2 linked regions of the Homo sapiens genome follow. The protein of the gene in region 2 purifies or fractionates together with the protein of the main gene of each other region. This does not show direct contact. Each region holds a gene or a part of one and is shown on either strand. Other genes may lie near its edges.

The links. Proteins that work in one complex are often made in the same cells at the same time.
Region 1: the proteins of WDR53 (region 2) and MOCOS purify together in Homo sapiens (affinity purification with mass spectrometry; one large-scale study listed by BioGRID and IntAct). This does not show direct contact.

Annotation. Positions count from the first base shown.
Region 1 is NC_000018.10:36,193,997-36,197,496, reverse strand, and holds part of MOCOS (molybdenum cofactor sulfurase), read right to left. Parts: exon of another isoform or gene 3,190-3,500; intron 2,241-3,189; coding exon 2,151-2,240; intron 1-2,150. UniProt on the Homo sapiens protein: Sulfurates the molybdenum cofactor. Sulfation of molybdenum is essential for xanthine dehydrogenase (XDH) and aldehyde oxidase (ADO) enzymes in which molybdenum cofactor is liganded by 1 oxygen and 1 sulfur atom in active form.
Region 2 is NC_000003.12:196,553,677-196,556,115, forward strand, and holds the end of WDR53 (WD repeat-containing protein 53), read right to left. Parts: intron 1,132-2,439; coding exon 535-1,131; 3' UTR 501-534; downstream 1-500.

The DNA.
Region 1 (3,500 bases), on a different chromosome or scaffold from region 2:
CACTGTACCCAGCTGGTAAATTTTATGATATAGTTAAAAAAAAAAATCTCTCCTCACTAGTAAAACCAAATGTGATCGGGAAGAGTATTTTAGAGCTGGAAGTCAGCTCAGAAGCAGGCCAGTGCAAGAGTCTGTTCTACATGTTCCAGACAGGTGGCTGTGGCTCTGTTTAACTCCAGAGAATGCAGTATACAGCCTCAGGAGGATGCCCTTTTCTCCAAGCATGAAGCAGAGCCATGAACGCCACTTAATCTAAGTCCCCACGTATTGCCCTGCAGATCCCACCACCACTGCTGATGCCTTTCCTGCAGAAATAATTGATCCCGGCCTCCAAATATGTGAAGGGGGCCACTGTGCTGCCCTTAGCCATCCACTTTCAAGGAGGAAGGCCCTCCTCCCAATGTCACTCTTCCTCTTAACTTCTAGTTTTGCTCCCTTCCTGGTGTCCTCACCAAATGTGTCCCAGAGTATCATGACCTCCCTCAAACTTAACCCCCAGACAGGCTTTGGTAGGGCCTGACCTATAAGACCAGGCACCAGCATTTCTCAGGAGCTACATGTGCTCATTAACGCAGAATTTGCCCTTTAGTTTTAGACTTTTTTTTTCCTCCAAAATACACTGAAAGATTGCACTGGATTTCTGGCCACTGCAGCTACCATATGTTCTGTTTCCACATTGCTAGTAACCTGTGGGACCTGGTAATTATCCTCATTGCCTTTCCTCTGCTTGGCTTTAGCGCTGCATCATTACCACCACCTGCAATCTCAACTCTGCCATCTCTCAGGCTTTCCCACGGTTATGGCTCTTGCAAAGGTTAAAGAAGGAGAATTACAAGAACCTTTGCAAACTGCAGATTAAAATCAGGATAAATCCCTCCTTGGCACCTTCCCAGAAGACTGTTCCCCAGATTTAAATATCTGCTGGCTGCCCAGAGCCAAAATCCAAACCCCTTAATGTGGCATAACAGAAGTATCCTGAATCGAGGCACTCTGGTGGAGGCTAAGGGCTTGGGCTCTGGAGCTAAACTGCCTGCAAACACAGCTTCTAGCTCCTCCAAGCTCCAGTCCTTCCTGTGCAGCCTCAGGCTAGTTACTTGCCCTCTCTGGGGCCCCATTTCTTCACCTATAAAACAGGAGTGATACCAGAACCTATGCCTCTTGGGTTGTTGTGAGGCTGAAGAGAGAAAGCTCATAGCGAGTACCTGATAAATGTTACTTATCGTTATTCTCATCACAAATATTACAATTGCTACTGCCACTATGATTTCAAGTTCCCTTTCCAAAGTATGTGAGATCATGTTGTGCTGCAAATAAATGCCACTGATGACAATGCCATTGCTCCTAGAACAAAGATCAAGCATCTACAATGCCCTGCACTGGCTTCTTCTCCCTCCCTCCCCATTCAGACCTCTCCCACTCTTCTCCCTTCCGTGTTCCTGGACTGGTTCCTGAAACCACTATGGGATCTTGGCTCAGGCTGTTACCCTGCCTGCTCGCACTTCTCCCCCTCTTGTCTGAGTGAATTCTGGCTCATCCTCCAGCATCCACTCCACTCCAAAGGAAGCTTTCCCTAGACATGCACAAGCCAACCCCACTGTCACTGCAGATACAGGCTGGCCTGGAACCAGGCACCTTTTGTCCATAGTCCTTCACACAGTTGGTAATCACATCTATTTGGAGTTCACTTAAGGTCTTGTCTTCCAGGACTAGATCACAGTGTCCAAGAAGAAAGGGATATGTTTATTTTGTTCCCATTATAGCACTGTCCCCCACACATCATAGTGGCTCAATGAACAGTTATAGAGTGAATGACTGAATTAACATCCCTCCTGCTGCCCCACTCTCTGCACTATACAGGGTCACTCACCACCACCAAATACAGCACCTTTGAATCTCTGTGCCCTTCCTAACACTGGCCTCTTCTTCTGGTAGTAACCTGTGTGTCTGTCCCTGAGCCAGCTCCCTCCATCCCGGCCACATGTTTACAGTACAGAATGACCCAGGGTGCTTGCCTGGCCCCTATCTTACATGGGGCTTATTCAGCTTTTTGTGGTCAGAATATTCCTGGCCTATTAATCCAGCGTTTAACATGCACAGGTATATCAGCTGCATGTAGTTGACTAAAACCTGTTTCAGGTGTTTTTCTTTACCATAAGTGTTTTCCATGAGATCACTAGTGAAGCTTTCGAGCTGGCTCTGGGAGAACAAGGTGGCACCTGCATGGTCAAGATAGACAGTTCCTGAAAGAAAACACAAAATAAATACTAAAATTTTACCTGAATCTGGTTTGTGTAAGCCCAACCAATGTCATCTAATGCATGCAGACGTAACATCAGGCCACTGACTTGTGCCTCTTGATATGTGCCTCTTAATCCAAGTGTAGGCATGAGCAGTGGAAGGACTGCACTTCTAATGCTGAAGGACTTTTAAAGCACTGAGAGAGCCCTCCTGATTAATCAGCTCTCTTCACTCTTTTGTGAACCTGGAACAGCATCCCACACAGAGAAGACGCCCAGCAGACATTCGTGATGAATGATGGCAAAGCTGTTTCACATTGTCACTCACAACCTATTCTGGAGGTTCTGGGAGGAGTCCCTGAGGGGAGAGCCCTGATCCTACTTTCCCACACTGCTCTGCACCCCTCAACACTAATGCAGCTGCAGAGCTTCCAAGAATACAAGGAATGCAAATGATCCATCCAACCTCTCTCTGAGAGAAATGCAAATTTAGATGAAAATGAGATACCGCGGATTACTGATCAGATTGGCAGAGATCAGTGGTTGGATTCCTCACTGTGTGAATGAAGCTGTGGCGAAACAAGCTCACTGGTACACGGCTGGTAGGAGGGTACACAGGTACACCTTTATGCTCAGCAATTTGGCAACATCAGTTCATGCTTTAAAATGTACACACCCTTTGACCTAGCAATTCCACTTGCAGGAATTCATCTTACAAATACCCACACTTTTGTGGAATGACCTGAATATAAGGCTATTCGACGAACTATTGCCTGCAATAGCAAAAGATTGGAAACAACTTAAATATCCATCAATGCGCTTTTAAAATAAACATTGTACACTAATAATAAGTACTGACATGAAACAAACTCTGAGATACACTTTCAAGTACATATAATGTGAAGAGATCCATTCATTCACTTATCAAATATTTTGTTTTGTGTAGAATGGGTTGTTTTATCACAGCTTTATTGAGATATAACATAAAATTCACTCTCTTAAAGTATACAATTCAGTGGTTTTTAACATATTCATAAAATTACATAAATACCAATTTTAGAATATTTTCATTCATTCCCAAAAGAAATCCCATATCATTACCAATCACTCCCCAATGCCTCCAACCCCAGCCCTTGATAACCACTAATCTACTTTCTGCTTCTCTAGATTTGCCTGTTCTGAACATTTCATGTAAAAGGAACCATACAATATGTGGCCTTTAGTGTCTGACTTCTTTAATTTAGCATAATGTTTTCAAGGTAC
Region 2 (2,439 bases):
TGTTGGCCAGGCTGGTTTCTAACTCCTGACCTCAGATGATCTGCCCGCATCGGCCTCCCAAAGTGCTGGGATTACAGGCGTGAGTCACTGCGCCTGGACAGAAATAACTAATATGGTGACCAATTTGGACCAGGATGTGGGCTTCCCTACGGTAGGCAGCTTAACAAGGTCCTTTCCAGACAAGTCGTTGTGCCTGCAATTTTCCTGGATCTTTAAGTTACTTAACATTTCTAAGTCTTAATTCCTGTGGCACTAAAATGGGGGAAATCACTTCAATGATTCGGAACAAGAAATCAAATATACGTAAAATGGCTGGTACATGGTACACAATGAATATTCATTCTCTTCCTCCAAACTTTAACATATCACTTACTATATAAATATCCAATTGTCTTTTGTTCAAATATCTTAAAATTTGTACAGCAGAAGAGTATGATTTTACATATAACAAACAGCTTAAATAAAGAACCAGGAGCTTTTTTTTTTAATCTGAAAAACAGTTTTGCCACAATTCTTCAAATGTTTTTATTGGATTTAAAATTCATTTAAGGGGTATACAGATATACAACTAGTTTGATCAGCTACTAATATATTTTGGTGTCCCTTTATTTTTGTACCCAAGAGCCAGTTCACTTTTTCTCCATGTTCAATATTTAGCTTTGGTAAAATGTTGCCATGTTCTTCCTCATCTGTTACTGAAGCGTTAGTATTTCCACCCTGCTTGGTGCAAGTTCCTCTTTTAGGTTTCTTCCTGTGGGTACGTTTTGTGGGACTCTTCTGTTTTTTCTCAACTTCACTGTTTGCATCCCACAACGTGATCTTCCCATCATTCCCTCCAGTAAGCAGCAAATAGGATTCTGGGAGAAAGCAGACCTGGGATACCCCTGAAGTGTGGCCCTTAAATCCCAGTTCCTGTTCACACTTAACTCCCATCACCCGAAAGATTCGAACCTTACCATCTTCTGCACCACAACTAAAAATATTACCACACGAAGCCACAGAGATAGAATGGGCTAGGGCAGGGTTTAAGAGCTGACCAGGTGACTGTGGGCCTTCCATTTCTTCTGTTTCATCCTCCTGTAAATTTGTAATCCAGAGTGGTCGGGCTTTTTGAAGACTCCACAGCATCACCTTTACATAAGAAGAAATTACACAGTCATACAAAATGCTAGCCAATTTGCTCAACTATCATGCTTATTCAGCTTCTAATAAAATCGTTAAAGTAGTCTGAGAATGAGCAGTAGTGCACGTTCTCAGCAGTATTAAAAAATAATCAAATGCTGCCATAACATGCCAGTGGAATGCTACCCCGGGACTAAAACTAGAGTGCGGTTAGGTAGAATTAAACAAGATCCTGAATAATTTTTGATTAATAAACTCCATTAAAGTGTAATTGTTAAGCAGCTGCCAGTTTCTAAAGGTTTTTCTGCTCTCATCTCTTCAAGTAAAACCAAAGATTATCAAATTTGCTAGTTTTAGTCTATGCTGGTTATAGGTCAAAAGGCCTATCAACTAAATAAACTCGATCTGGACTATCATTGAAATGCTTTCCATCTGGAATGCCTTCCTTTCCTTTCACATTACCCAATTACCCATCCAAGGGGCTTAAGCTCAGTCCTGGTGCCTCCAAGAAGGCTTTCCTATTTCAGCCCGCTTCTCCTTCCTGTATCTAGTTTCTATTCTATTAATTGACATATTCTACTAGCTTATCAGTTTCTTGAGACTTACTTAGTCTTTGCTAATGCCTAGCATAATGGCTGAGAAAGAGGAGAAATTCCAAACATGTCTGTTGATTAATATGACATCCTGGTATTAATTTCATTTGGCTTTTCGTTGTTCCCGACCTGGTGCTTTTTGTTTTTTTTAAATAAGCTTTGTGAATGGGTTTTACATTATCATCTAGTGATTCATTCTTTTCCTGTATCAACCATTTTGCAAAGAAAAATACTCTTAATACTTTCAAAGCAAACAGACAGCTTTATCATGTAGTTTACCATCATCCCTGAATTATAACTCACAATTTTAACAGACACTGGAAGAAGCATGAGCTTGTTTAGACAGTGAAAAGCATAGATCTGAATTGGCAAGATTACTATTGCTAATGCTATTAAGAATTTGGTTTCCTATTCAAGGTAACTTCCCTTATGATTATTCTCAGTGGCCTATTTTCAAAAGCAGTGACATCTAGTAACACTTACATTCTGCTTCTCTTAGATGAAAATCTCTTTGAATTGGATTTATAACATTATACTATGTGACTAACAATCACTGTTTGGGTGAAGTTAAAGTACGAACAAATTGAAATAAGCTAAAGTAAAATAAATAAATATTAGAAAATATAACACGAAGGAGTGCTGAAACTTGATATGAAAATAGTTTTTTTTTTAAAAATAGGGTCTCACTTTGTCACCCAGGCTAGAGTGCAGTGGCATGACCATG